7 linked regions of the Homo sapiens genome follow. The protein of the gene in region 2 interacts with the protein of the main gene of each other region in a biochemical or structural test. Each region holds a gene or a part of one and is shown on either strand. Other genes may lie near its edges.

The links.
Region 1: the proteins of CBX5 (region 2) and STAM2 interact in a test that uses a peptide from one of them, tested with the Homo sapiens proteins (one study listed by BioGRID).
Region 3: the proteins of CBX5 (region 2) and LBR form a complex in vitro, tested with the Homo sapiens proteins (2 studies listed by BioGRID, with this or other methods).
Region 4: the proteins of CBX5 (region 2) and CHAF1A form a complex in vitro, tested with the Homo sapiens proteins (2 studies listed by BioGRID).
Region 5: the proteins of CBX5 (region 2) and NR2F1 form a complex in vitro, tested with the Homo sapiens proteins (one study listed by BioGRID).
Region 6: the proteins of CBX5 (region 2) and ORC3 form a complex in vitro, tested with the Homo sapiens proteins (one study listed by IntAct).
Region 7: the proteins of CBX5 (region 2) and KMT5C form a complex in vitro, tested with the Homo sapiens proteins (one study listed by BioGRID).

What each region holds. Positions count from the first base shown.
Region 1 is NC_000002.12:152,144,174-152,148,263, forward strand, and holds part of STAM2 (signal transducing adapter molecule 2), read right to left. Parts: coding exon 4,052-4,090; intron 3,950-4,051; coding exon 3,851-3,949; intron 3,136-3,850; coding exon 2,989-3,135; intron 785-2,988; coding exon 715-784; intron 1-714.
Region 2 is NC_000012.12:54,248,701-54,253,130, reverse strand, and holds part of CBX5 (chromobox protein homolog 5), read left to right. Parts: intron 1-903; coding exon 904-1,090; intron 1,091-4,430. UniProt on the Homo sapiens protein: Component of heterochromatin that recognizes and binds histone H3 tails methylated at 'Lys-9' (H3K9me), leading to epigenetic repression. In contrast, it is excluded from chromatin when 'Tyr-41' of histone H3 is phosphorylated (H3Y41ph).
Region 3 is NC_000001.11:225,403,635-225,408,064, reverse strand, and holds part of LBR (delta(14)-sterol reductase LBR), read left to right. Parts: intron 1-1,232; coding exon 1,233-1,401; intron 1,402-3,358; coding exon 3,359-3,439; intron 3,440-3,538; coding exon 3,539-3,661; intron 3,662-4,430. UniProt on the Homo sapiens protein: Catalyzes the reduction of the C14-unsaturated bond of lanosterol, as part of the metabolic pathway leading to cholesterol biosynthesis.
Region 4 is NC_000019.10:4,429,726-4,434,155, forward strand, and holds part of CHAF1A (chromatin assembly factor 1 subunit A), read left to right. Parts: coding exon 1-63; intron 64-823; coding exon 824-916; intron 917-2,226; coding exon 2,227-2,482; intron 2,483-3,344; coding exon 3,345-3,814; intron 3,815-4,430. UniProt on the Homo sapiens protein: Acts as a component of the histone chaperone complex chromatin assembly factor 1 (CAF-1), which assembles histone octamers onto DNA during replication and repair.
Region 5 is NC_000005.10:93,589,326-93,593,755, forward strand, and holds part of NR2F1 (COUP transcription factor 1), read left to right. Parts: intron 1-4,236; coding exon 4,237-4,430. UniProt on the Homo sapiens protein: Coup (chicken ovalbumin upstream promoter) transcription factor binds to the ovalbumin promoter and, in conjunction with another protein (S300-II) stimulates initiation of transcription. Binds to both direct repeats and palindromes of the 5'-AGGTCA-3' motif.
Region 6 is NC_000006.12:87,662,501-87,665,838, forward strand, and holds part of ORC3 (origin recognition complex subunit 3), read left to right. Parts: intron 1-502; coding exon 503-644; intron 645-2,242; coding exon 2,243-2,359; intron 2,360-3,253; coding exon 3,254-3,333; intron 3,334-3,338. UniProt on the Homo sapiens protein: Component of the origin recognition complex (ORC) that binds origins of replication. DNA-binding is ATP-dependent. The specific DNA sequences that define origins of replication have not been identified yet.
Region 7 is NC_000019.10:55,338,011-55,343,161, forward strand, and holds the start of KMT5C (histone-lysine N-methyltransferase KMT5C), read left to right. Parts: upstream 1-1,865; 5' UTR 1,866-1,947; exon of another isoform or gene 1,948-2,704; intron 2,705-3,783; 5' UTR 3,784-3,926; coding exon 3,927-4,036; intron 4,037-4,204; coding exon 4,205-4,370; intron 4,371-4,382; exon of another isoform or gene 4,383-4,637; intron 4,638-4,731; coding exon 4,732-4,841; intron 4,842-4,844; exon of another isoform or gene 4,845-5,151. UniProt on the Homo sapiens protein: Histone methyltransferase that specifically methylates monomethylated 'Lys-20' (H4K20me1) and dimethylated 'Lys-20' (H4K20me2) of histone H4 to produce respectively dimethylated 'Lys-20' (H4K20me2) and trimethylated 'Lys-20' (H4K20me3) and thus regulates transcription and maintenance of genome integrity.

The sequences.
Region 1 (4,090 bases), on a different chromosome or scaffold from region 2:
GACATTTTTAAAATAAAGTTTTTGCTCATTCTTTATTATCACGGTCTGTCATACACAGCAGCAATTATTTTTATAGCAAACAGATTGTGACATTATAATATGGGTAGCTTTCCATATAGGATAAGCCATGAACATATTTCTCTGCTTGACTCATAACTTTGGCATTAAAAAAAGGTGAAATGTAATCTCTCCAAAGGTAGCACATCAAATACATATTACTGAAAAAAGATAATGAATTAAATTCATTTGATAGCATGTCATTTGTTTTCCTTACTTTTTGGATGCTACTAGTTTTTAGATTTGAGGTAAAAATAAAAGTATGCTAGTTTTATTATCATTTTTATTTCAAAAAAATGTTCTGGCAAATACATATATATATTTTTTGAGATGGAGTCTCACTCCATCGCCAGGCTGGAGCACAGTGGTGCCATCTTGGCTCACTGCAACCTCCGCCTCCTGGGTTCAAGCGATTCTCCTGCCTCAGCCTCCCGAGTAGTTGGGACTACAGGCGCCCGCCACCACGCCCAGCTAATTTTTGTACTTTTAGTAGAGATGGGGTTTCACCTTGTTGGTCAGGCTGGTCTCGATCTCTTGACCTCATGATCTGCCCACTTCGGCCTCCCAAAGTGCTGGGATTACAGGCGTGAGCCACCGCGCCCAGCCCTGGCAAAGATATTTTAAGCAACACTAAATTACATGTGCTTGATCATTTACCTTTAGCTATGTCTTCATCCTCTTTGTTTTTGTTCGATGACGTACCATTCTTGGCAGCAGCTGAGACAGTCTGTAAATGTATGAGTAAAATGAACACAACTATCTTTTCAAACAAAACACAAGCTCCATAATTACTTGCAGATGGTAAATTTTAAAAAATACTGATATAACTGAGTTTCATTTAAAAGTGAAGTTCTTTTTTGAGACAGGGTCTCATTCTGTCAGCCAGGTTGCAGTGCATGGCACAGTCATAGCTCACTGTAACCTCCAACTCCTGGGCTCAAGTGATCCTCTTGCCTCAGCCTCCTGGGAAGCCGGAACTAGAGGTGTATGCATCCACAACCGGCTAATTTTTATTTTTTGTAGAGACAGGGTCTCACTATGTTTCCTGGGCTGATCTGCAACTCTTAGCCTCAAGTGATTCTCCTGTCTCAGCCTACCAAAGTGCTAAGATTACAGGCATGAGCCACCATCACTGGTCTAAAAGTGAAGTTCTTTATAATAATTTTAAATAATTGTTTTCAAATACTAAAATAAAACATCAGATTTTTCAAGAAAACATTATAAACTCACACAGGGATCAAACTGGCTTAGATTTTGCATAAATGTAACACAGAACTTGGCATACAGAAAGTACTTAAATATTAATAGAATTTAAAAAAGACTCTTTTCTGATTGTATTCCCGATCTCAATTGTCCAAGGTCTCTTAGTGAGAGGAGCTCTGCTATAGGAGTACAGCTACACGAGGAGTGCCAGCAAGAAGTCATGATCATCACTGAAGAGAGAGGAATGGGGACAGAGACAAGAGGTGCAGTTCTAGGAATATGTGTGAAGTCCTTTTACTAGTTATTGTGGCTGGGTGGCAGTGGTCTGCCAGACATAGCAGAGAAGTAAGGAAGGTCATGCTTGAATTTAATAAACAGCATGTAAGACAGGTATCCAGGACTGATCCATCAACCGGTTCTTTACATAGATTTTTCAGAAAAATATGCAGAAAGGACAGAACAGGAAAATGTTTCCTTTTTATTACTTATAAGACTCTTATCTCAAAACGTTACCTTGTACCCTTAGGTCTGGTCAGCTATAAAGAATCTTTTTTCGGCCAGCGTGGTGGCTCATGCCTGTAATCCCAGCACTTTGAGAGGTCGAGGCAGGTGGATCACCTGAGGTCAGAAGTTTGAGACCAGCCTGGTCAACATGGTGAAACCCCGTCTCTACTAAAAATACAAAAAATTAGCCGGGCATGGTGGTAGGCACCTGCAATCCCAGCTACTCTAAAGGCGGAGGCAGGAGAATTGCTTAAACCCGGGAGACAGAGATTGCAGTGAGCTGAGGTTGTGCCACTGCACTCCAGCCTGGGCAACAAGAGCAAAACTCCATCTCAAAAAAAAAAAAAAAAAAATCTTTTTTTCTCTTTAATCTATGATTTAAAATAAAAGAAAATATAGTACTTCTCATCGTCTCTTTCCCTAGCCCATATCTTAATATTAATGGGAAGGAATAAGGTACTGAGAGCAAAACCCAAGGAATAGTATTTTTCTCCCCTAGACCTAAAAAAACCAGCCCACTCCATGAGTCAACATCCCTGCCTCCACACCCCAGTTCTACTAAAGCTATCCCTTCTCCCAGCAAATAAATTTCTAGTCTTACATTTCCATCCATCTTGTATGTGAAGCATTCACTCTAGGCATATTCACTCTTGAACAAACAAGTCTTGAGCCTCTCAATTCCATGAATTTGTTCATTTCACTTACCTCCTGATATGACTTCTTCACTTCTCTCTAACAAAATATTAATACATTCAAGTCTCAAAATTCTACCTCTTTACCTTCTTCACCATTCCAATCTGTAGTCACCTCTTTCTCTCTTTGGTATTAAGATAGACAGTATGCAGTCTATTCCCCTCATCCTGTATTTGTCACTTACAATCTAAATTAGTTATTTTTCACATGTATAAAGCTATCATTCAAATTTGCTACAAATTTCTTGAATATAAGGGGTATGTCATATACCTATGCCTTTTGCATGACTGTAGACTTAGAGGAACATTAAATACACTATGTCTGATTAACTTCACAAGGTTCTGATATGTGGAAGAAATACACATAAAAACTAGAATGTCTACTAAACGTAAGGAAGGCACTATGCTAGAGAGTCATTTGGGAAGTAAAGGTGGAAAATGATAATCTAGACATACCTTGCCTAGTCTTTACATAACATACATACCTTCAAAATATTATAGGGTCAACCATGGGTCTGAATAAATCTCTCACCTGAGAACCTGCTGGAGGAAAAGTAATTCCTTCTTCTTTCATAGATTTAATAGTTGCAGATATCAGACTAAACTGAGGGTCCTTCTGAAATTCTTCTGACCACTCCACCATTAAAGATTTCAGTTTTTCACATACTTTAGGATGTGCCTTTTAAGGAAAAGGAAAGGAAAATAAACAAAAATCTACGGTTAAAATAAGTACTTAAATTATTTAACAAGGAGAATTACCATCAAAATTCTCTTTAATTATATGAACATCAACAAAAGTCCTGAAATTTCTAGCCTAGTTGAGTAATTGATAGATGCCTATTTACATGTTGTGATATAGTTGTTTCATACAAAATGACTGTTTTTAACACCAATTCCTAAGTCTTACTATAATGACAACAGATCTTTTATATTCAGAGATTATTTCCTCCATGTTTCGGAGAATGGAGCCAGAGAAACCTGGATGTAAATCATGGCTATTCCAGTTACCAGCTGCATGACCTTGGACAAGTTACTTCTAAGTCTCAGTTTTTGCATTTATAAAATAAGAATGATAAGGGAATCTAACTTCCAAGAATCTAATGCTCCAAGGGTAGTTAAGAGCATTCAACAAGACAGTATATGTAAAATGCTTAAAGTAATGACTACTTACTAGCCCTCAAAAAGGATTTGCTATTATTTACAGTATATATACTTTGGGGAGAATAGTTTTTGGTGCTACACATTAAAAAATCAAATTTCAGAACAGTTTATTTCATTTCAATGATCTAAAAATGACTTCATTTATAATACTTTAGTAATGCCACATATAGTTATAATGACACACAATCTACATTTTTTTAATGACTTAAAGTTCTTCTGTTTTTAAAATTTACCTTATTTTTAATCACAGCACGTACTTCTGTTGCAAAATCACGGGAACATACTTCTAAATGAAATATCTTTCCACAGTTTGCCACACAAGCCCCAAGAAGCTATTAATTGAAATAAAAATATATGAATATTGAAATATTAACTTACTGTAATTAAAAACACATTTAAAATTTGCGTCAAATAATAACATGCCTTGTACTCACAGTTAGTGCTTGCAGAGCAACATGTGGAACCTTATGATT
Region 2 (4,430 bases):
TTTATAGAGCTATGCAACCACCACTATGATCCAGTTTCAGAACATTTTTGTGTCCCCCAAAATTCTCTTGATTCCCATTTGTAGTTAATTACAACTCCCTCCCTCAGCCCCAGGCATTCACTGATCTGCTTTTTTTTTTTTTTTTTTTTTTGAGACAGAGTCTGGCTTTTTCGCCCAGGCAGGAGTGGCACAATCTCAGCTCACTGCAACCTCCCCTTCCCGGGCTCAAGCAATTCTCCTGCCTCAGCCTCCCGAGTAGCTGGGACTACAGATGTGTACCACCACACCAAGCTAATTTTTGTAATTTTAGTAGAGACACGGTTTCACTGTGTTGGCCAGGCTGGTCTCAAACTCCTGACCTCAAGTGATCTGCCTGCCTCGGCCTCCCAGAGTGCTGGGATTACAGGTGTGAGCCACCGTGCCCGGCTGATCTGCTTTCTGTCTCTATAAATTTGTCTTTCCCAGACATTTCATGTAAATGGAATTAGTATGTAGTATCTTGTGTCTTATTTCTTTCACTTAGTATAATGTTTTTGGGGTTCTTCCAAGTTGTAGCATGTTTTAATATTTTGCTTATTGTTGTTGGATAATATTCCTTTGTATGGATATACCACATTTTGTTTTTCCATGTCACCATCCATTGATGAACATTTGAATTTGTTTTCTGTTTTTGGCTATTAAAATGCTGCTGTAAACAATTGTAAATAAGTCTTTGTGTGGGCTTTTTTTTTTTTTTCATTTTTCCTGGGTAGAAATCTAGGATCAAATTTGTTATCTTCTTTAAAGCATAGGGTTTCTCTGTCCTTTTTGTCCGAATGTCCTCTTTGAAATAAGGCATTGGATTTTTTTCCTCATTCTTTACCCCCCCCTTTTTTTTTTAATTTTCCCATTTTTCTTACCCAGGGAGCACAATACTTGGGAACCTGAGAAAAACTTGGATTGCCCTGAGCTAATTTCTGAATTTATGAAAAAGTATAAGAAGATGAAGGAGGGTGAAAATAATAAACCCAGGGAGAAGTCAGAAAGTAACAAGAGGAAATCCAATTTCTCAAACAGTGCCGATGACATCAAATCTAAAAAAAAGAGAGAGGTAAGCTTCCTTTCCCTTTTCCCCAAAAACTATTCTTTTGCCACCAAAATAATAATAATAAATAAAAGTATCATATTTTGGTTATTTCTATTGTAAGGATGGACCTATAAGGTAAATTGTTGAACAAAAGAGCTTCCAGGGAGGTATGTTGATTACAGCTCCCTCTCCTGGCTAAGTGAGAAATGTAATTTGTGGCCACTGGATTGTATTAAGGGGGCAAAATTAAATCTTTGTAAAATGTTAAACCACTCCTCTGCCTTCTCCATAAGTAGAAGACTTAGTTATCTTAGAGAAGGAGGATCATTGGTGAATTTTTTAAGAATAGAAAGGGGCTTTGAAATGTTTTGTTTTGTTTTGAGACAGAGTCTTGCTCTGTTGCCCAGGCTGGAGTGCAGTGGCTGGATCTCAGCTCACTGCAATCTCCAACTCCCGGCTTTAAGCGATTCTCATGCCTCAGTAGTAGCTGGGATTATAGGCACATGCCACCACACCTGGCTGATTTTTTTTTTTTTTTTTTTTTTTTTGAGACAGAGTCTTGCTGTCACCCAGGCTGGAGTGCAGTGGCACTATCTTGGCTCACTGCAAGCTCTGCCTCCCGGGTTCACGCCATTCTCCTCCCTCAGCCTCCCGAGTAGCTGGGACTACAGGCGCCTGCCACCACGCCCAGCTAATTTTTTTGTATTTTTAGTAGAGACGGGGTTTTACCATGTTAGCCAGGATGGTCTTGATAATTTTTGTATTTTTAATAGAGACGGGGTTTCGCCATGTTGGTCAGGCTGGTCTTGAACTCCTGACCTCGTGATCCGCCTGCCTTGGCCTCCCAAAGTGTTGAGATTATAGACGTGAGCCACCATGCCCAGCCGGGGCTTTGAAATGTTTACCATTTCACTTCCTTTTTTCTTTTTTTTTGGAGACAGAATATCGCTCTGTCACCCAGGCTTGAGTGCAATAGTGCGATCTTGGCTCACTGGAACTTCCACCTCCTGTGTTCAAGCAGTTCTCCTGCCTCAGCCTCCCAAGTAGCTGGGATTACAGGCACACGCCACCATGCCCAGCTAATTTTTTGTATCTTTAGTAGAGACGGGGTTTCACCATGTTGGCCGGGCTGGTCTCAAACCCCTTACCTTGTGATCCATCCACCTTGGCCTCCCAAAGTGTTGGGATTACAGGCGTGAGCCACCGCGCCCGGCCCTTTCTTTTTTTTTTTTTTTTTTTTTTTTTTTTTTTTTGAGACGGAGTCTCGCTCTGTCGCACAGGCCGGACTGCGGACTGCAGTGGCGCAATCTCGGCTCACTGCAAGCTCTGCCTCCCGGGTTCACGCCATTCTCCTGCCTCAGCCTCCCGAGTAGCTGGGACTACAGGCGCCCGCCACCGCGCCCGGCTAATTTTTTGTATTTTTAGTAGAGACGGGGTTTCACCTTGTTAGCCAGGATGGTCTCGATCTCCTGACCTCATGATCCACCCGCCTCGGCCTCCCAAAGTGCTGGGATTACAGGCGTGAGCCACCGCGCCCGGCCCCGGCCCTTTCTTTTGTTCCAGTGATAGCATTTGTTTTCAATCCTTGATAATCTTTTTTTTGCAGTGAAAATCATATAATATACAATTAAATATTTTATTTATTTATTTATTTTGAGACAGAGTCTTGTTCTGTCACTCAGGCTGGAGTGCATGGGCGTGATCTCGGCTTACTGCACCCTCACCTCCTGGGTTCAAGTGATTCTCCTGTTTCAGCCTTCTGAGTAGTTGGGATTACAGGCATGTGCCACCATAGCCAGATAATTTTTGTATTTTTATTTTTATTTTTTATTTATTTTTTTGAGACGGAGTTTCACTCTTGTTGCCCAGGCTGGAGTTCAATGGCATGATCTTGGCTCACTGCACCCTCCATCTCCTGGGTTCAAGTGATTCTTCTGCCTCAGCCTTCCAGAGTAGTTGGGATTACAGACATGCACCACCATGCCCAGCTAATTTTGTATTTTTAGTAGAGAGGGTGTTTCTCCATGTTGGTCAGGGTGGTCTTGAACTCCCTAACTCAGGTGATCCACCTGCCTTGGCCTCCCAAAGTGTTGGGATTACAGGTGTGAGCCACCATGCCTGGCTCAATTAACAATTTTAAAATGTACAGTTCAGTGGCATTTATATTCTCTTGATCTATTATTTCTACATACTTGGCGTACAAAATTAATTTTTGTCTTTTGAATCTTCTTCAGTTTGGGAAGTGTATTTATGAAATTTTGGTTTGATTTAGTTGCTTTAATCCTTCTGATCTTTAGCTCTCAAGTAAGTAGCATAAGCACTGTTATTGCCTCTCTCTCTTTTCATCTGTGTGTGGGCGCATAAATACACACACTCTACCACCTCCTCCCGCCCCCAGCTTCCATTCCTTTTATTTATTTCAAGGTTATGAAGCCTTTTGTGGTGAAGGATGTATCATACACTTTACATTTCATAAAAGCGTAAGTCTACTTCGGAATCTTCCAGCCTTCCAGAGTAGCTGCCACAATCATCCCTATGTATCTTCATTCTAATTAGATTTATACCTTTCTAGAGCATTAGTTCTCAATGCTACACATTATAATCACCTGGGGGGTACGTTAAAAAAAAAAAAAAATCTCCAGTGCCTAAGATGCACCCCAGACCAGTAAAATTAGAATTTTTTTTTTTTCTTTTTTTTTTGAGACATAGTCTCACTCTGTTGCCCAGGCTGGAGTGCAGTGGCACAATCTCACTGCAACCTCTGCCTCCTGGGTTCAAGCGATTCTCCTGCTTCACCCTCCCTAGTAGCTGGGACTACAGGCACATGCCACCATGCCTGGCTAATTTTTTGTATTTTTAGTAGAGATGGGGTTTCACCGTGTTAGCCAGAATGGTCTCAATCTCCTGACCTCGTTATCCGCCCATCTTGGCCTCTCAAAGTGCTGTGATTACAGGCATGAGCCACCACACCTGGCCTCTGTCATTTTTAAAAAGGAGCAGTCTGAATAATCTGGCTTGGAGCCACTGGCCAGTGCACAGAGTTTTGTTCCTAGGCCAGGTTCTGAAGCTGCCGACCTTGAAAACAACCCCCACATGTCCCTTACATCATAATGTTCATCTGGGACCCCTGATAGCATTCTTAGCAGTACTGGCTGCTGTCAGGTAGACAGCTGGAAAGATAGGTGATTGTATGTTTTAAAGGTATAGGAGGGGATTGTGTTTATTTCTTAAGACCACTGGAGAAGAAATTTGTTAGTTTGCATTATGCCTGATTTAAGATTACTGCCTGTATGATGATTTTAGCATTTTCTTCGCCCTGGCTCCTTTTCAGCAGCTTGAACGTTTTTCTTCCATTCGCCTCCTC
Region 3 (4,430 bases), on a different chromosome or scaffold from region 2:
CAAATAGCTAGAAGGATATTGAATATTCCTAACACAAAGAAAGAATGTGTTTGAGATGATGGATATGCTAATTACCTTGATTGGATTACTATATATTACATGTATTGCAACATCACTGTGTACCCCATAAATATGTACGATTATTACATGTCAATTTTTTTTTTTAAAGAGAATAAAGTACTCTGGTTAACTAAAGAGTATAAGCCTAAGGAGCTAGATTTTGTGAGATTGGTTTTTCTGTTTCATGTGACATCTGTTTTTCTGTTCCATGGCCTATTTGCTTTCTTTTCTGGAAAAAAATGCTATTTAGAGGTACCACTCTTTTTCTTTAACCTAGAACTTTGATTCTCCAACAGAGCTTATACTGGCTAATATTTCTACATCAGTGGTCTGTACTGAGGTTCTGGGTAGTTTAGAGATTCCCTTAGGCCAGACCTTCAGAGTGTTGACCTTGGTGGTGGTTCCGTATTCTAGAGTCTGGCCTGCCCGTATCCTGGGCCAGAGGCGATCTGGCTCATGCTAACCAAATCACCAGGGAGTAATGCACTTTTATTAATTTACATGAGAAGCGAAGCTGTCAGTTCACCATGTTGCCAGGCAGCTTAATTTCTTCTGTGGAAAATGCACATGAAATGCCAGATTATGAACAGAAATTAGATTGGTCCATGTGGAATTGAAACAAAAAGAGTTGGTGATCTTATTCCTTCAGCAAGCATATTTTGAACACTTCTCTCCATGGCGGGCACTGTGCTAGGTACTGGGGTGGCAAAGGTGAAAACACACAGCCTCTGTCTTTTAGAGGCTTTTAGTGTAGTGAAGAGTGACTAGACAAGTACAGTAACCCAATTACTGCAGCCTACTGGTGGGTGGTGATATCTGAGAAGTGCCCAGGTCTGAGCAGCAGGTCAGGAGGGCAGCAGAGGGTGTAGGGCCTATGTGGAGGTTGGAGGAGGGGTTGTCAGCAGAGGGGAGGGCCTGGGCATGGGGGCATGGGAGATGCTTTAGAGATCTGTTATCTCCAGAGCATGAGCGAGAGGCTGGCGTGACGGGAGAATGTGACAGCAGAAAGACCTAGCAGGCCAGGGGAACCAGATCTCTCTCCCCTTTAACAAAAAAATGTTGATTGTGGACCCGCCCATAGCACTTTTTACATTTGCCTGTAAACTAGTACTTTATTTGAATACTTTAAACACAGAAGCTCCTTCTCCCTTTCCCCGTCTGTATCCTTATAGGAAGCGTTGTTGACGACCATGGACATCATCCACGATGGATTTGGATTCATGCTGGCTTTTGGAGACTTGGTGTGGGTTCCCTTTATTTACAGCTTCCAAGCCTTTTATTTAGTCAGTCATCCAAATGAAGTGTCTTGGCCAATGGCTTCTCTAATTATTGTTCTGAAACGTGAGTATTAATTTTAGTCTCAGTTTAATTTATTAAATATTATGTACTGAGGCTTTTATGCCCTGCTGTCTACATACTTGAAACATGCCATTTTGAATGGCCAGCATTAGCTCAGTTTGAAGCCATTTATCATGAGTAATAAAAAATCTGCATTTTGCAAAGAGAATGGATGGTTCGTACTTGGGTTCTCAGTAGTACTTGAAACAGATTATTTTAAACCATCTTGCTTTTAAATTTAATAAATTTAAGTTGTTTTAATTCGTTTTGGTAACCATACGTCTTTTCTCTTGAGTGCCTGCTTTTTCTGGTAGGCATCTTATAAAGTAAGAAGATTTGTCTTGCCTTCATAGAGCTCACATTCTAACAGGAGAAATAAGACATTCCTGCCTTGCTGTGAGGTGTGTGAGTGAGCACTAAGAGGGGCTTAGATGACGGGTGTTAAAGATAGAGAGAACTTCTCTCTGGGGAGCGTTAGTGTGAACTTATCGGAGGATATGGTGTTCGATTGGAGTTTTAGAGGGGAAAATGGGATGGGGAGATCGAAAAGTCAGGCACTGGGAACAGCTCAGCAAGGGTGTGTGGTGGGGAAGTGTGAGATGAGGTTGGGAAAGACTGAGAAGTCCAGTTTGGCTGCAGCTGCGGTCCACCAGGGTCAGTCATGGATTTTACTTCAGGATGAATTTTCATTGTTCTTACACTGTTCACTAAACACTTATACTAGAGGTTGGGCAGGGAAAATTAGCAGTGAACTGCAAATACAGATAGTTTTGCTACACAAGTTAGTATCTGTGGTAGAAGAAGTTCAAACCATTGGTTAAAATTAAGATTTAGTTTCACCAGTGGTTTGGATGTCCATGTCATCCATTTTATTATTCAAGACAGTGTATTTTATAGTTCAGCTAAAAATGGGGAATGTCTTAGTTTGTTTTGTGCTGCTCGAACAGAATAGCTGAGACTAGGTAATTTGTCATGAAATTTATTTGGCTCATGGTTCTGGAGGCCAGGAAGTCAAAGAGCATGGTGCTGGAATCTGGCAAGACCCCTTCTGCTGCAGCATCCCAGGGTGGAAGGTGGAAGGACAAGAGAGAGTGAGGGAGGGCAAGAGAGAGTGAGGAAGAGCAAGAGGGGCTGAACATACTTTTATAACAAACCCACTCGAGATACTGAGCCCACTCCTGTGATAGCCACATTAATCTGTCCATGAGGGCAGAACCCTCATGACCTAATCATCTCTTAAAGGTGCTACCTCTCCACACTGTTGCATTGAGGATTACGTTTCCAACACGTGAACTTTGGAGAACACATTCAAACCAAAGCAGGAAGTAAAGTTATTCTCTTACTAGTTTATTGAGGATCGACTATATAATAGTTAAATGTCAGTGATAGATTGATTTTTGACATTCTGAAATTTGGATAAAATTAGGAACTTATAGACTTAAAGTGGGATTCAGCATGTATTTAAAGTGCAGGATGTTTTGGTGCTGATTCTAAGCTAGTGTTTGATAATAAAATGTTTGTGCCATGGCCAGTAGGTATAACTAACAGATGATATAGCTTGTAATTTTGATTACACTGAACTCTAGTATTGATTTTATTGTAATGTAGGCTATCTTAGATTTTATCTCTTTCATGGATGTAACTATATTTGTTTTGCCTTCAGAGCGTTTCCTAGGTGGATGATTAAAGTAGTGTGATAGATTTCGGACGGGTTACCATCTTTTTACATAGTGGGATTTAGAGGTTTTGAGTTGTTCTTAAGAATCAGGCCAGGTGCGGTGGCTCATGCCTGTAATCCCAGCACTTTGGGAGGCTGAAGCAGGAGGATCTCTTGAGCCTAGGAGTCTGCTTTGGAAATTTCCTCAGAGCATAGAAATCATTTTTAAGAGAAATTACAGATGCTATTAAGCATTAGAGTATAACTAAGTTATTAACATAGGAAAATATTTTAAAATTGCAGTTTGTGGTTATGTAATCTTCCGAGGTGCAAATTCTCAGAAAAATGCATTCCGGAAAAATCCCAGTGATCCAAAGCTTGCACGTAAGTATTGATTTATGTTTATATTATATATATTACATGAAGGTTTTATTTTTCTTTTTGTCTCGACATCATTAAAAATGTACTTTTATTTTTATATAGATTTAAAAACCATTCATACTTCAACGGGAAAAAATCTTCTAGTTTCTGGATGGTGGGGCTTTGTTCGCCACCCCAATTACTTGGGTGATCTCATCATGGCCTTGGCGTGGTCCCTCCCATGTGGTAAGCATTTCAGAAGAGTGCTAGTTTGACCCTTTTAGCCGCCAGAAAGATGTGTGTGTGTGTCCTTTGTGTGGGACAGTGTGGCCAAGGTGGGTGTGAGTCTTTTTGTCGCCCTTTTCTACTGTGAGGTTGGCCTCTGTAGAAGCTCCTCTGGCTTCTGAGGGGAATTGGGAATTCACAGAGCCTGAAGTTTTACTTTAAGCCTAAAAGCACTATTTTAAGTTTTCAGCTGTGCCTGATAGCTTTTTTCTAAGTAGAATATATAGAAATTAATTCAGCTTCTTAATTCATGATTCAGTGTACATAGATTGGGAAAAACTTTGGTTTTTAAGAAGAGAAAGAGATTCTGTTTTTCTTTTTGTGTGTCTGGCCTCGTGGGGAGCTGGGAAAGCAGGGGAGCAGGGAGAGCTGTGGGAGCTGGAGGTGCTTGGGGAGCTGGGGTGTCAGGGGGAGCTGGAGGTACTGGTGGAGCCAGGGGAGCTGGGGGAACTGGGGGAGCAGGGGGATCTTGGGAAGCTGGGGGAGCTGGGGGAACTGGGGGAGCAGGGGGATCCAGGGGAGCTGGTGGAGGTGGAGGAGCTGGCCCGTGCCTGCTGCCTGTTTGGTGGCCCAGCCTGTGGTGGAAGACAGCAGTTTTTCTTCTTTGCTGGGGGAAGAAGGGCGAGAAATGAAGAGATGTGTATTAACTATGAGGACAGATGTTTTGATTGTGATGGATTGTTAGAATGGATTCATCAGTCTTTGAGTAGCTTCTAATTTAGATACGACC
Region 4 (4,430 bases), on a different chromosome or scaffold from region 2:
GTGGACAGTGATGAGGAGTGGGAAGAAGAGGAGCCTGGGGAGTCCCTGTCCCACAGTGAGGGGGTAAGGATGTGCCCCAGCTGTCTTCACTCACAGACGGCTTGTGTTTGAGTCTCTGTCCCACAGTGAGGGGCTAAGGATGCAGCCCAGCTGTGTTCACTCACTGACAGCTGGTGTTTGACCTGCTGTGTGGTCTGAAACCTGAACGCACCTCAACATCCAGACTTCCAGCTTCTCTCGAAAAATCTCATCTGGTGACACTCGCCCACGTGGCTGCTGGGGATGGGATCCCGTCCGCATCTGCACCGTGGCCCCACAGCCCCCTCTTGCCTCCTGCGGGCCTGCTGCACACCATTTCCTCCTGACTGCCCAGCTGCTGTGACCTAGTGGGCTTTCTGCCGATGCTCACCGTGTCTGTCGGGAGGCCATGCAAAGCAGATGTTCACAGCTTTACATTTTTTTGTTTCTTTAAGATGGAGTCTCACTCTATCACTCAGGCTGGAGTGCAGTGGCGCGATTTCGGCTCACTGCAACCTCTGCCTCCCAGGCTCAAGTGATAGTCCTGCCCCAGCCTCCCTAGTAGCTGGGATTATAGGTGCGTGCCACCATGCCCAGCCAAGATTTGTATTTTTAGTAGAGACAGAGTTTTACCATGTTGGCCAGGCTGGTCTCAAACTCCTGACTTCAGATGATCCGCCCACCTCAGCCTCCCAAAGTGCTGGGATTAGAGGTGTGAGCCACTGCGCCTGGCCTACTTTGTTTTTAATAAGGCACACACTCTGCTTTTCTATCTGATGAACTCTTTTTTTTTTCTCCTTTTGAGGATGATGATGACGACATGGGAGAGGATGAAGATGAGGACGATGGTTTCTTTGTGCCCCATGGGTACCTGTCTGAGGACGAAGGTGTGACAGAGGTGAGGGAGTGAAGGGGGAGGTCACCGGCTCAGCAAAAGTTCATTTCTGGACTGGTGCTCAGTGGCCTGACCTGGGAGGGTGACGGGGGTCCCAGCCCAACCATACGAGATTTGGACTGCATTCCAAGCACGCAAGCTCACTCGTGGGAACAGCTGGGCCTGAACTTGGTATTACCTGGGAGGGTGGCAGACGTAGGAGGAGCTTGCAAGCGAGGGGAGCCATAGGAGCAGACACCCTGGTGAGGGAGCGTGGCCATGGTCTGTGGGTTAGAAGGCTGGAAACCACCCGAGCTGACATACAGTCAGCATGCAGCAAGACATGTGCATTGTAAGTGTTGAGTTTGATGACGTAACAATCAAGTGAATGTGGGCAACCACCGCCCGAAATAAAACAGAACTTCCCTATCTCTCCAGAAGATTGCCCACGTCTCTGCAGGCGAACCTGCCTGCCACCCCTTTCCAGATTCCATAAGGTTGTGGAACTGTCTTTTTTTTTTTTTTTCTTGAGACGGATTCTCATTCTGTTACCCAGGCTGGAGTGCAATGGCCCGGTGTTGGCTCACTGCAACCTCTGCCTCCCGGGTTCAAGCAATTCTCCTGCCTCGGCCTCCCAAGTAGCTGGGACTACAGGCGTGTGCCACCACACCTGGCTAATTTTTGTATTTTTAGTAGAGACGGGAGTTCATTATGTTGGCCAGGCTGGTCTTGAACTCCTGACCTCCAGTGATCCACCCGCCTCGGCCTCCCAGAGTGCTGGGATTACAGGCATGAGCCACCGAGCCCGGCAGGAACTTGCTTTCAAGCAAGTTGTTTTTGGTCCTGTTTTGTTTTGAAGGCCTGTCGTTTGGGAAGTGGGGATTTGGTGGGACTGTCTCATGGTTGGACTGGAGGCCTAGGCATTCCTTGTGCATATCTGACCACCGAGGCCTGAACTGTCAGTCAGAGAGTGGTCTCAGGCCCTGCATGTGTCTGCCAGATGCCTGGGCCATGTGGGTAGACACCCAACCCTGTTAAACGGCTCCACGATCACACATTCACCAGAAAATTCAGAGGGGTGTTAAAAGAGGCCTCATGGGTGAGTTCAGAAATATCTGTGACGCTCCCAAAGGAGACCAGGTGTGAATTATTCCATCTGGAAGAGGGGCAGCCAGCGCATGGTGTGCTCTGCCCTGGCCCTGACACTGTGGGAAGTTTTGTGCCCCTGTCCTTTCCTCTTGCTCCCCAGCTGGCTGGGGACTGGTTCCTCAAAAGAGTGCCCGGGCATAGGGGAGCAAGAACCCCAAATAAACTTCTGCTTTCTAAACCACAAGGAGTGTGCCGACCCTGAGAACCATAAGGTCCGCCAGAAACTGAAGGCCAAGGAGTGGGACGAGTTCCTGGCTAAGGGGAAGCGCTTTCGCGTCCTGCAACCTGTGAAGATCGGCTGCGTGTGGGCGGCTGACAGAGACTGCGCAGGCGATGACCTGAAGGTACTGCAGCAGTTCGCAGCCTGCTTCCTGGAGACCCTGCCGGCCCAGGAGGAGCAGACGCCCAAGGCCTCCAAGCGGGAGAGGAGAGACGAGCAGAGTGAGTGTGGGCGGGGCCAGGCCACCCACCTGTTCCTGGGCCCAGCTAATTCCAGGGCTGAGGGCAAGAGTCACAGGCTAGTGGGTCCGTGATGCAAATGTTCTTTCCACAAATAACAGAGGCCAGCCCTTTTCCTGTACATGTCCGTACGTTCAATGATGTCCCTAGCAGCAGGACGAGGCAGGTCCCTTAATTGGCTTGTTTTATCAACCAGGACACAGGCACAGAGAGTGCTGGAGTGGGGGCTGTGCTTTCTCAAAAGCCAGGGAGGGGCCGGGCACAGTGCCTCATGCCTGTGATGCCAGCACTTTGGGAGGCCAAGGTGGGAGGATCGCTTGAGCCTAGTGCTTCGACACCAGCCTGGGCAACATGGCAAAACCCCATCTCTGCAGAAAATGCAAAATTACCTGGGTGTGGTATCACGCACCTGTGATCCCAGCTACTCAAGAGGCTGAGGTGGGAGGATTGCTTGAGCCTAGGAGTTTCAGACCACAGTGAGCCATGATCCTGCCACTGCACTCCAGCCTGGGTGACAGAGCAAGACCCTGTCTAAAAAAAAAAAAAAACTCAAAAAACTGGGGAGGGACCATGGCACACAAGGAGAGCAGGGCAGTCATTTGGGTAGGAACAGCAGGCATTTGAAGTCAGCCCTGGCAACACACGTGCCCGGCCAAGGCTCACTTCTGGGCAGGTGCGTAGGTGCTACCCTGTCTTACACCCGCCCTCATGAGGCCACCTATCCCCGAAGCTGGCCATGCCCCAAGCCTCGGTGGCAATGAGCTTGTGTATGTGTTTTGTTTTTTGGCCTGTGGTGATGGGTGGCTCCCCAAGCCTCATGCCCACCCATGTTCCCTCCTGCCAGTCCTGGCCCAGCTGCTGCCGCTCCTGCACGGCAATGTGAACGGGAGCAAGGTCATCATCCGGGAGTTCCAGGAGCACTGCCGCCGGGGACTGCTCAGCAACCACACCGGCAGCCCGCGGAGCCCCTCCACCACCTACCTGCACACCCCCACCCCCAGCGAGGATGCCGCCATCCCCTCTAAGTCCCGGCTCAAGCGGCTCATTTCCGAGAACTCAGTGTATGAGAAGCGGCCTGACTTCAGGATGTGCTGGTACGTGCACCCGCAGGTGCTACAGAGCTTCCAGCAGGAGCACCTGCCCGTGCCGTGCCAGTGGAGCTATGTGACATCGGTGCCCTCGGCCCCCAAAGAGGACAGTGGCAGCGTCCCCTCCACGGGGCCCAGCCAGGGCACTCCCATCTCGCTGAAGAGGAAGTCAGCGGGCAGCATGTGCATCACCCAATTCATGAAGAAGCGCAGGCACGACGGCCAGGTGAGGTGGGGTGGGCAGGTGGGGGCCTCTGCAGGGCTTTTCTTTTTTTGTTTGTTTTTTGTTGTTTTGTTTTTTTTTCGAGATGGAGTCCTGCTCTGTCACCCAGGCTGGAGTGCAGTGGCGCAATCTCAGCTCACTGCAACCTCCTCCCTCCTGGGTTCAAGTGATTCTCCTGCCTTAGCCTCCTGAGTAGCTGGGATTACAGGTGTACGCCACCATGCCTGGCTAATTTTTGTATTTTTAGTAGAGACGGGGTTTCACCATGTTGGTCAGGCTGGTCTCGAACTCCTGACCTCATGATCCGTCTGCCTTGTCCTCCCAAAGTGCTGGGATTACAGGCGTGAGCCACCTCGCCTGGTGTTTTTGTGTTTTTTAAATAACCTTACTCTTAGAGCAGTTTTAGGGTCACAGCAAAATCGATTGGAAGGTACAGAAAGTTCCCATACACCTCCTTCCCCAAAGCCAAGCCAAGCCACCCAACATCACCTCCCAGAATGGTGCATTGGTTACAATCAGTGCACCTCAGGCCAGGCACTGTGGCTCACGCCTGTAGTCTCAGCACTTTGGGAGGCTGAGGCGGGAGGATCACTTGAGCCCGGGAGTTGGAGACCAGCCT
Region 5 (4,430 bases), on a different chromosome or scaffold from region 2:
ACGTTTCCTTTGAAGGGCTCTGGTCTGAGCCTCCGAGAACAATCCCCGCTTTTTATTATTGTAACCTGTAAGAGGGAAACATATAAACACCCAGGACAGCAGGTAATGGGGAGAAATAGAGACAAAGCCAGAGAGGAGGCTGGTGGCAAGTAGTGCTGCTTAGACTGGGTCTTGGGCCCTGCCCACTGTGAGTAGGGTTAGCTGCAGTTTTACCACCATTATTGGCAGTATTGTTTTTAATTCCTCCATTCGGAGAACAAATAAACCATCCTAATAAATCTATCCTAGAACCAGGCTTTCCAATGGCCAAATTAAAACCATTCTTGAACAGGGATAGCAAAATCCCTTTCATAAGGCCTTGTTGAACAGTAAGCAATGGTATAATCTATCAATATTTCTTGGCTTTCATGTGTGAAGAATTGTATTTACATTGTATTAAAATGACTCCTAAATTTGCACAATATTGTAATGTAGCAAATGTAGTATTAATATCGATCTGAACAGCAGATAATTTATTTAGACAAGAGCATCTCATTTGTATGCAGGGTGGCCAGAGCAATGGACTTGGACTGCCCCCCTTTTACTTTCAGTGCAAATGCAGGTCTGCTAGTGAGAGAGGGAGTTATTCTTTCCAAGAGGATAAAGTGCAAACCTTAAAACAAATGGAAGATTTATGGAATAGCCTCCTCCGTATTTGAATGCATTTTATCTTAATAAGTCTTCTTGATGGAAACGTGTTTTTCAAAAGTGACAAAGAGCCTGGGAAGCAGCAACCAGGCTGCCTCAGCTCTGGCAGGCCTGGGGCCTGGCTGGCTCTCTACTACCAGGCTCTTTAGCCAAATTCATCAGGAAGCAAGCCAGTGTCAGGGAAGCTGGGGTTTGAAAATCTCATCCAGCGAGGTGTCTTGAAGCAGAAATGTGACTTGGAACTGGACAGACGTTTTCTCAGGAAAGGTCTCTCCTCTCTTTTCCTTACACCCCCTAAGGTTCTTTGAACCCCCTTGACTTTGCTAATCTCATGCCCTTTCCCAGAGAGAGGTGAGGACTGTGCAGGCTGCAGGGAAACACTGTGGAATTATTCATGCTTTCCTTTTAACTTTCCATACTAAAACATTCCTGTGAAAAGTGTTCATTTAAAAAGTTTTCCAAGGAAGTTTCTTGAATCAAGTCTTCAAGGTGCAAAGAGTGCCTAGAAATGAACAATAACATTATTTTGTTGGAAAATTGCAAGCAGAATATCTGAAAATGGAAATAGAGCTGTCAGTAGTAATTCACCTCCCCCCTCCCATGCAACACATTTCCACTTTTGACTAAACTTGTTTTGATTGCTAGCCAGAAGGGAATTCATGGGAAGCCTTCTCAAAGTCATCCAACTTTTAAGCAAACTTTGAATGATGGAAAAGACAGTTTTAGACATATTGTCCAATGTGGTTTGCTTTGGCTAAGTATTTGAAGCTGGCACGGGGGTCCCCCGTGGTGGTTTTCACATTTGGCCTCCGGATGGTATGTTTAATCCTTAATATTCTGGACTGCATCCAAGGACTAGGTCATGACCTGAACTTACTTTTTAAAAAATTCATTAGTTCATACACCTAAATATTCCTTCAAATAAATGAGACTTTCTCTGAAAGGAGCCATCTAGTTAACATAAATACAATAAATCCATTTTCAGCACAATAATAACTTTGATTTCTAGTTATGGCAGCTGATTACATCTATATTTCCTGAACACTAAACTCTTCTGAATGCACAACATGAAATACATTCTCTGCACTACAAAGGCTAGGCCAGGAGGGCCTGAGCAGTAATGGTTATTTATTTACATAATTTCTTTTCCATACACTGTAGAAGAAATATTGAGAGTTCCCACATTGACACTACCGTATAAAAAGTGTGACATGGATTTTGCACATTCTGCCTCATTTTCTTATCTGGGGTATAACTCATGGAGCATAAATATATACTGTATTACACCCCCTGGTCACCTAGCTTTGTCACCACAACCCCCTAGTTGATCTGGGAGCTCATACCTTCTGTCCACAGTTGAGGGAATCCTGTTGCAAAGGGGTGAATGAATTTCCAGACTGGGAAGCCAGGCCAGAACCAGGGCTCCTGCCGGAGGGAAGCCACAGAGCTAGCTGGCTGGTACCTGGCAGGCAGGCCCAGCTACAGGCATTCACCTCCAAAGGAGGGAAGAAATGGAAGCAACCAGCACAGGACCCAGGCAGGCCTTTCCTGGGCTTCTTGTCTCTCTTGGAGCGGCCTGTTTGGGAGTTGGGAAGTGACCTTGTACTCCAGGGACCCTAATCATAAATGTCAGATAGATATTTTACTGAGCTGAGGGGATGCCAGATGGATCTTAAAAAAAAAAAATCTGCCGGGATACCAAGGGGCCCTTTTCACATTGCATTGTCTAGGGCTGAGAATGATCCATAAGCATGCAGGCAGATAATGCATGTAAAGCAAGCTCTATGTAATTATGGGTCTGGGTCTGAGTGAGGGTCATTCATCAGGGCCAGGTTAGCAAGCAGGGCCAAACTCACGGTCCCCTCTCTAAGCAGCAAAGCCCCACAGAGCTCTTGCTGCCCTGGCCCTAATAGCCATAAAGTCTCATTTGGCTTCCCATATCAGACCAGTGTGGATATACCCAACTGGCTGGCTGGAGTAATTAGACATCTGAGAGGAACCTAGTCTGTATCTGAGGTCAAAGGGGACTTGCCTCAGAAGTTCTTGAATTATCACTAGTTTTATTTGTATTTTTGCTCGAGGCCATAGCCTTGTAGATGAAGGTGTTAGAATGCTTTGTAAATCCCAGTTCTTGAAATATAAGGTCATAAAGCTCAGAAACTCAGCAGACACAGGTTTCACTTTGAATCATTTGTTGTGTCTTCTTAGGGTCACACTTGCCCATTCAAAATTATACAATGTCATTTTGGGGGCATTGCCATGCATCAATTTTTTCCCAGATCTATATATTAGCAAATTCTGCCTTTGATCTCTAGTCAACCTCCTGACTGGCTAAGGGCTCCTCTGTGATCTTACTGGTTTTTTTTTAATATTTATTATTAATATAAGAAACAAGTGGGTATTTGAACTAGGAGAGGATGCCTTTACTCCATTCCTCTTATTCCATCTTTCCCTCCCTATGCTTGCCTCTAGTTAGTTGATATAATATAATCTGCTGTCCTGAAATACTTTTAGAGGACCAAGAAGGGCCTTGGTTGACATGAACTAAGCACACAGATTTTGAGGTGCTGTCATTGTGCGGAGGTGCCTTTTTCTCCCTTGGTCCTGCCACCAAAAGCTTATCTCCCCCCAAGTCCCCCCTCAACTCCCCACCACCCACATCCCCCCCTACCCCCCCAGTTCTGAAGCAGCAGCAGCTGCTGCCTGTAGCCTAGCTTTGTGTCTGATTGCTGAAGATGTCGCCTTTCTGCAGCCTGGAGTAACTGAGTCATATTCTTCCTGATTATTATACAGCTTACAGAGATGTGACCAATTTTCAATTACTTGATCTAAGGTATAGATAGAAGTGTACACCCTCACCAAGGATTTGCTGCAGAGTCCTTTCTTGCATAGATAACGGATCTGAAATCCTATATTGCTAAAGCGTGGGCTTCATCTGATTCCAGGCACTGCCAGCCCATGATTCCTTACCCCCTCCCATGTGTTTGTTCACTACACAATCTAGGTTCTCCTGGAGGTTTCTGGTTGGGGTGGTTTGGGTTTGAGAGGGGACTCCAGGAATCCTTTAAGAACTGCCTTCAGGCTGCATATTTCCTAAGGGGTACTGAACACCCCCAGATCAGAGGCAAATGGGGCAAAAGTTAATGAGCACGGCCAGAAAGATGCTCCCTTGCAGGCCGAGGACAGGTTGTTAAGCGCAGCAAACATGGTTCCAGCATTGTACATTATTTAATCCAAAGGTGAAAGAGGAAAAACAAAGGGACTAGAGAGGTTTCTGCCTCTGCATGTGTGTGCCTCTCTCTCCAGCTCCCCTAGGCTTGGTGGGGGTTTGATTTATTTTTATTTGTATTGTATTGGGGGCGGGGGAGGAGGGAATGAAGAAGGGGATGGAGAGGTATAGGAGGGTGAATTTTTCTTTTCTCTTTTACTTCTTTTTTATTTTCCATTTTCTCCTTAAAAAAAATTGATGGCTTATTTTGCCTTTGCTATTTGTCAGCCTAACCGTGTGCTCCCTTTCCCTGTCTCTCCCTCCTGTGGCTGCTTGGGCAGACGCCTGTGGCCTGTCGGATGCGGCCCACATCGAGAGCCTGCAGGAGAAGTCGCAGTGCGCACTGGAGGAGTACGTGAGGAGCCAGTACCCCAACCAGCCCAGCCGTTTTGGCAAACTGCTGCTGCGACTGCCCTCGCTGCGCACCGTGTCCTCCTCCGTCATCGAGCAGCTCTTCTTCGTCCGTTTGGTAGGT
Region 6 (3,338 bases), on a different chromosome or scaffold from region 2:
CTAAAAATTTTCTGTGATCCAAGAAGAATTTCCTGAACTCTTAATTCCAGGCCTGTGTTTAATATTGCCAAAGGTTAAATGTTTGCTGTGCTAGAAAATGTAGATATCTGTTTTCTCATTTACTTTAAGAAATGCTATCTTAAAGATTTCTAAGCAGAAATGTAGTATATATACATTTGTTCCTAAAGGTTTAACTCAGAACTGAAATATACAGCTTCTTATAAAGAGTCTAGAGGTAGTTTTAAAAACTATTATATGGAAGAGATGCAGTTCTGAGTGAAACTGTATTAGAGCTGATATTTGGGTTTGTTTCATTCGTTTGTTTTTGGTTGTTAATTTTGCTTTTAGTAAATGGTTCAGTCCTCTACAGAGAGAGGATTGACAAAAATGTTATAGTGAAAATTGAAGTCCAACAGAGCTTAAAGGAAAAAATATATATATTATATATAAAGAAAATAAACCTGTGCTTATCTAAACATGGATGCCTGACTGGCTGTTTCAGAGAATACCTTCTGCCTCCTGAGACACAGCCTCTCCATGAGGTGGTGTACTTCAGTGCTGCCCATGCCCTTCGTGAGCATTTAAATGCTGCTCCGCGAATTGCCCTCCATACTGCACTCAACAATCCTTACTATTATCTCAAGGTAAGATGAACATTTAGTTTTCTGATAGTTTAGCTCAGACTCTGGGCGTCATTGTCATAAAAATATACTAAATTTGCAGTTATGTTTTAATGAGCAGAGAGTCGGCAATTCAGGGTTGCACGTCTCATATATTTTTAAAAATTCTTTAGACTGTAGAAAAAAATTTCTAACCCCATAAAGATAGCAATTAGTAGTCAACTGTTGCTGCCAGTTTTTGACCATGTGTAATCTTTGCCCTTCACATGCTAAAGTCAGATCATAGGCACAAAGACTTGAGAGTATAATGTTACCACTCTTGTGAAAATAAAAGAAATGTTTCCTGTAAACATAACAGCAGACAGGGATTAAACAATATGGCCTAATAAATTACTGAAAGACCGAAATGGTTGTTTCTAGTGGGAAAGAGAAATACTTTGGGACTTCATCTTGGATTTTAAAACAAAGAAAGGTCTATTCTGAGAGCATCTGCAGAGCTGAGTGTAGAGGATAACCAGCAGTCTGCCACTAAAACTCCTGGGGCAGCACACTTCAGCTGCCCTTGCTAAAGTCCAGACACAGTTATCAACTCCTGGAAGCTCTTTAAACAATAGTTCAAGACAGCTCACAATTTTAGAAACTAGCTTTCTTATGACCGGGCAAAATGATCACTTTAAACATTCAATAAGCTGTATATACATGAAAGAGTGGTAAGTTAAATACCCAGAAATCTTGCCACAATAAATACTTAAGAAACAACTCCGTAAGACCTATGAAGAGCATTCCAGTGTACTGGCTTCTCATTGCAAAACGGCACACAAACATGCAGAGTATTACAAGAATATTGAGTAGGACGATATAAGTCAATGGTTTTCAGTGATGGTGAAAACCACTGAATAATTTCATACTTAACCAAAAAATCAGTTAATTTTAATATATAAACCATAAATTAAAACTTACAAAATCTGTCTTCTTCTTGGCTGGTGGGTCACAGAAGAGAACTGGTATGATTTCAGTTGTCTTTGGGTGGGATATATTATAATATACCCCTGATATTATAATATCAGAGCAGGGTGTGTATGTAAGACTTTGTGTTTCTCAGTAAAAGCCATGGATTTCAAATAGGTTGAAGAAACACTGATGGTTTCTATAGGGCTTAAGGTCTGCAGTGTTGACAACGTAGTCTTTTCTTTAAAAGAAATTTATACCCCTGGTAAGTGGTATTAGTATTTACTAATACAGTATAGTAATTGTTAGAATTCAGCTAATTATAAGTGTTGGAAGTACCATTTTATTAAGTATTCCTAAAGATTTCCATAAACTTTTTACATTAAGTGCATTCAGGTCTGAGAAATTAGTAATTTATGGATTGAAATGAAAAATATGCTTATCTTCTAATCCTGGGAATATTCTTCTAGTGACTAAGAACTAGAGGGGTTATGACCAAGACATAAACCTAAACAAGAACTAGCTAACTATTGAATAGACTCACTCACTAAATAAGGGAAACCAAGATTCCATTTACTGGTTTACTCAGTTTAGGTTGGGGGCTTCATTAATGTCTGATTTTATTCCTAATAATTTATAAAAGTTAGTCATCTTAGTTTACTGTTAATTGTTAGAATGAAGCACTGAAAAGCGAAGAAGGCTGCATTCCGAATATCGCCCCAGACATCTGCATAGCATACAAACTGCACCTAGAGTGTAGCAGGCTCATCAACCTCGTGGACTGGTCAGAGGTAGGTTGTAGGGAAAAGAACAAGCTAGATATTTTTCTAACCATCCATGATGACTTTCTCAGAATAGTTTTATACTTTTAGTGCTTTGGAATTTATCTTGTGTTTAATGCCTTGTCTTTTATTTGGAAAGCATAAATCATTTCAAACTTTAAAAGTTCCTTAGGAAGTGGTAGTTCAACAGTCCCCACTCCCAATCCCCTGCCCTCTGATCCTGAATTCCTTAACCAAGCCAATTCTGTGTTCATGCTAGGTCAAAATAAGTATGTGATCTAACCCAATAGTTAGCATTAAGCAAAAACTAAACAATTTAGGTCAGTTCTGTTATTTCACAAAATAAAGTATATTATTAACTAGCATTTCTCTTCTTGCTTAAAAGAAAAAAAATTGAAGTAACTACACAACAGATTTAGCAATCAGGAAGTATAAGGAATACTTGGCAAGGCAATAAACAACTGTTGTTATTCTTTAAAATAAACAACTATTCTTTCTGTCTTCAGAATAGTATTACAAAGATCTTAACTCTATTAAAGGCCTTACAGATGTCTTGTCACCATTAAAAAATATCCATAATTGGCTGCTTCCAAGAAAAATAGATATTTTCCTGGAGTAAGATTAGTAGAGGAAACAGGGCTTTCTTGTTCTTTTACCTTTGACTAGCTTCGTTTCTTTTCTCTGCATACTCTTAGTTCTCTGAAACAAGATTATTCAGGAACCATTACTTTATCTTTTAATATATAAGTGGTTTAAAGTGATCATCAGTGTAGTTTTGACAATCTTAAATTTGATATAATGAAGAATATGTGCCAGCTATCAACAGCCATTAAAAGAAGTATAGTAAAAGATGTTTGGCAACTGTAGACATTTTTATTTTCTTCTGTCTTGTCTATTCAAAAGGCTTTTGCAACAGTTGTGACAGCTGCTGAAAAAATGGATGCAAATTCTGCAACCTCAGAAGAAATGAATGAAATTATCCAGTATC
Region 7 (5,151 bases), on a different chromosome or scaffold from region 2:
TGGGCAACAGAGGAAGACCCTGTCTCAAAACACAATACAGGCCAGGCATGGTGGCTCATGCCTGTAATCCCAGCACTTTGGGAGGCTGAGGTGGGTGGATCACCTGAGGTCAGGAGTTCGAGACCAGCCTGACCAACATGGTGAAACCCCGTATCTACTAAAAAAAAAAAAAAAAAAAAAAATTAGCCGGGCATGGTAGTGCATGCCTGTAATCCCAACTATTTGGGAGGCTGAAGCAGGAAAATCGCTTGAACCTGGGCGGCGGAGGTTGCAGTGAGCCGACATCGCACCATTCCACTCCAGCCTGGGCAACAAGAGGGAACTCTGTCTAAAAAAAAATTAGCCAGGGGTGGTAGTGCATGCCTGTAATCCCAGCTACTTGGGAGGCTGAGGCAGGAGAATCGTTTGAACCTGGGAAGCAGAGGCTGCAGTGAGCCGAGATCACTCCACTGCACTCTAGCCTGGGCGAGAGAGCGATACTCTGTCTCTGTCTCTCTCTCTCTCTCTCTCTCTCTCTCTCTCTCTCTCTCTCTCTCTCTCTCACACACACACACACACACACACACACACACACCAAAACACCAAAAACAGCACACCAAAACAGCACCTACTCTGTGGCATGCATTGTTTTAAGTGCCCACGATCTATAGCTGTACAGTGGAGCGCATGTCTGACAGTGATCCTATATGTGTAGACACACAAGCGCCTACATTGTGTTACCGGACAGTAACATGCTGCACAGCTGTGTGGCCCAGGAGCCGCCGGCCACCTTACAGCCCAGGTGCCAGCAGCCCTGCCACGTAGGTGTGAGTGATGTTGCTCTAGGATGCTGGCAGGATGACGACATCGCCTGAGCACGCACTGCCCAGATGGTATCAGTGTCGTTAAGGGAAGAATGGCTGTGGCGAAACAAACAAACAAGCAAACAAAGACCGCCTGTTCTGAGTGTGGAGCTTATTATTCTCGGCGTAATTATGATGAATTGTTAGTTACGTTTGCCTCTAGGATTGAGGTAGGGGGGGTGATCCCAATTAGGGGGTGCCCCAGGGGAGCGCCCCAGGAGTCAGGGCTTGTCTCAAAAGTCCCCACTCCTCCCTCAGCCTCCCCTCCCTCCATCCGACCCCGTTCATATCGCGGGAAGGTCCCACAGAGTGCGTGTGGATACTCCCAAAACGCAACGGTGTAAACGGGGAGGGAGGGAGAGAGACTGAGGAGCCCTTTGTAGCCAGGCAGAGCTGTCAATAAAGTTTCGTCGCCTTGGTAACCGCAGGCCTCGCGGGGCGGGAGGGGAGAGGGATGGCGGTGCGCGCGCATTCACCGCCTCCCTCCCGCCGGGTCTGGCTTTCTCCCTCCTGTGGCCGAAGCTTTCCTCGGAGAAATAGAAGAGGGAGGCCGCGACTCTATGGTGATGGACGGAGGCCTTACCCAATGGAAAGAGGAGCTGTCCCAAGGCCAGGCAATCATATACGACTACTGGAGCTGGCAGAGCCCGCCCTCTTTCCACTTGGACCTGAATAACCCGACCCAAACCGAGTTTCGCCCGGAGAGACTGCGCTTTCGGCCAATGAGTGCGTCGATTTCGAGCCCCAGTGTGAGCGAAGGCGGGACAAGTCTCCATGGCAGCGACTAAAGGACAGCGATGTGAACCACTGACAACAGTTCGCGGCGTTTGACGGCGGCGGGGGCGTGGCGGGGTTTTATCTGTGTATTGACGAGAGCCGGGCGCGGAGGGAAAGAGTGGGGCTTGGCCAATGGGAGCGCCGTGAGCTTCGTAGCAACGGAGGAGTGGCGGTGGCTGTGGCCAATAGAAAGCCTCAGTGGCCTTGGCGGGGCTGGCCCGGAGAGCAGATGGGAGGTGCGGCGACAGTGTTTGACGAGAGCCGAAGGAGGCTGTGGGAGGTGTTGGCGGCGGCGGCGCGGGCGCCTGAGGAGGAGGAGGAGAAGCGGGTGAGGGGCGGCGCGGGGCCCGATCTCTGAGCCCCTTCACGGCCCCAGCCCCGCGCCGCCTTGGCTCCCCAGTCGCCCCCTGCCCCGACTGCCCCCCACCCCGCCCGGCCCCTCCTCGTGTCCAGGCGCCCACGTCTCCCGGCCCCTCGCCGGGCCTCGGGCTCCGCGGCACTGCAGCCTCCTTCCTGTGCTTCCTCACCCGGGCCCTGACCCCCTTCTTACGTCCACGGCCCTCCCTGCATCCTCAGGGCCTCTCCCTGACCTCTTGTCACTCTCCAGGCCTCTCCCTGCACCCCCCAGGGCCTTTCCCTGACCTCACCCTCCAGGCCTCTCCCTGCACCCCCAGGTCTCTCCCTGCACCCTCAGGGCCTCTCCCTGACCCTTCTCTCACCCCCGGGACCTCCCTGCACTCCCAGGGCCAATCCCCGACCTCCTCTCACCCTCCAGGCCTCCTTCTGGACCCTCTAGGTCTTTCTGTGCCCTAGAACCTCTCCCTGACCCCTCTGTCCCTCTCCTGGCACTCCCTGGACCCTGAGGTCGGCCTCTGACCCTCCAGGTCCCTTGCCCTGGGCTCTCACCGCCTACCCAGGCGCCTCCCTGGGTCCCCAGGCCCTTCCCTAGGGTCTCCCTTTCCTGGATCCCCCAGGACCCCACCAAGCCCGTTTGGATCCCTGGGCCCCTGTCCGCCCTCTCAGGCCCTTCACTCACTGGACACCCAGGATCTTCTCCGCCATCCCTGGACCGCCCCCCGACCCAGGTCTCCCGTCTGGCTCCTCCCTGAGTCCCTAGGCCATTCCCCGCTCTCTGTCCTCCCTGGCACCCCCATCCCTTCCTCACACCCCTCTGAGCGCCCCCAGGCCCGGCTGCAGCCTTCTCCCTCCCACAGCCCCCTGCCGTGCCCACCGCTGTGCGTTTCTCTCCTTGCCCCCAGCCCCCTCTCCAGCTTCCCCGCTGTCCCTGGCGTCCTCCTGCAGCGCCCCCTCTTTCTCTCCCGCAGCCTCGCAGTCTGTCCCCGACCCCTCCACAGCCGTCTCTGCAGCTCCCGCTCCTTGCCCTGCCCCATCTCCTCCTCTCCTGGGCGCGGATGAGCCTCGAGCGCCGTGGTGCGGGGACGAGGCTGGCCCTCCGTCCGGGTTAGGGGTTTGGGTGGTTTTCTTCATCTCTCCGTTCTCTCCTGGCTCCGCTTTAAAAAAATGTTTTTGTAAATATTGACCTGTGCTGCCTCCCCATAGTCTTCCTTTGCTCCCCTCCCCACCCCCGCTTTTGTCCTCTGAGCCCCCCTCCCCTGGAATCCTTGGAGAGGGAGCAGGTGCTGGGATCCCTCCCCTGCCCTCCCTCCCGTCACCCGCCTCCAGGCTGCCTGGGGCTTCACCCGGAGCCTCCTGACCACTCCCGAAGGCTGCCGGGGAGGCAGGGGGCGGAGACCGAGGCTGGGTCGAGGTGGGGGTGGAGGGCGGGACCTCGGGCTGGCGGGAAGCTTTGACTTTTCCTCCTTGAGGGCTAGAGGTGAAGCGGCTCCCCACGGTGCTAAGCCTTTAGGGTGATCCCGGCTGCCAATCAGTCAGCCTTCTCTGGGCCCAAAGAGATGTGTGTGTGTAGGGGGTCTCTGTACATATGGGCAGGGGCATCTGCGTGTGTCAGTCTGAGTGTGCATGGGTGTGCATGTGGGGGTTGTGTGTTTAGGGGGGATCTGTGTCTGCGCTGCGGAGCAAGAGCAAGAGCTAAGGCGATGGCTGACATGGCTCTGGGCTTTCCCTACTCTCAGAAGTACTTGTTGCATTCCATCTTCGCCAGCGGCCTGGTGAAGTCAGCACTGCTTTTCTCCCCATTTTGCAGATGAGATCGTGGGGCTCACCAGCGTCCCCCATGGCTTCTGAGTAGCGTGGGAGTGGAGTCAGCACCAAGCCAGGCTCCCCGCGCCTGCCTTGCCCTCACCTGCTCCTGCTCTCTGCCAGAGGCAGCATGGTCCGCAGGGCACCATGGGGCCCGACAGAGTGACAGCACGAGAACTGTGCGAGAACGACGACCTGGCCACCAGCCTCGTCCTGGACCCCTACCTCGGTTTCCGCACCCATAAGATGAACGTCAGGTGAGGTGGCCTGGGGGCGAGGGTGGGCCCGAGGGGTCAGGACCCCTCCCCTTGCACCGCTGCCGCCCCTCGGCCCTCTCCTTAGCCTGGTCCTCCCCTCAGCTCCAAGTGGGGGTTGGGGCCGGGGCCCGGGAAGGCCCTGGGACCCAGGCATGCCCTCTCCCCCAGCCCTGTGCCCCCCCTGCGGCGACAGCAGCACCTGCGCTCAGCGCTGGAAACTTTCCTGAGGCAGCGGGACCTGGAGGCTGCGTACCGGGCCCTGACGCTGGGAGGCTGGACGGCCCGCTACTTCCAGAGCCGGGGCCCGCGGCAGGAGGCTGCCCTCAAGACCCACGTGAGGGCGCCCTCCCCTCCCCCGCCCTCACCGCGTGTCCTCCCCGCTCACCGGGCCTGGTCCCGCCTGGCAGACGCTCTAGAGTCCCTCAGCGCAGCCCCTGGGGCCCCCTGACTTCCTAGCCCTTGGGACCATCTGAGGCAAGGCTCAGAGAATCCTAGGAGAGGAGAGTTGGGGGGGCCCTCTGAGATGTAGTCCAACCTCTTCATTTGACGGATGAGGAAACTGAGGCCCCGAGAGGGAACATGAGGCCCCCAAGACCACACAGTGAGTCAGTGGCATGGCAGGCCTAGAGTCCTGGAGAGAGAGGGCCAAAGATGCCCCTGCCCCGCCTCCTCACCCCCACCCTCACCCTCACCAGGTCTATCGCTACCTCCGTGCCTTCCTGCCGGAAAGTGGCTTTACCATCCTGCCCTGCACGCGCTACTCCATGGAGACCAACGGGGCCAAGATCGTGTCCACTCGTGCTTGGTAAGAGGGCAGGACTCCCTGCAGGTATCCTTGGAGGAGACAGAGCTCAGAGGGGACAAGAGAGACCCTCTGTTCATGGACTGGCCAACCGGGGAAAAGCGAGGGGCCTGGTCCTCCGGGCATCCTAGGAAGGTGGTGGGGCTAATCCCGGAAGACCTTTGTGGCTACCGTGGTGCCGCTGGAGCAGGAGACCCCGGATGTGACCCCAGGGTTCCTGGGGCTTCCAGGAAAGAACTAGGCTTCTGGTCAGGGCCGTGCTGTCCTTACCTCCTTGTGACCTGAGCCCCCACCACATGTTAAACACCCCTGA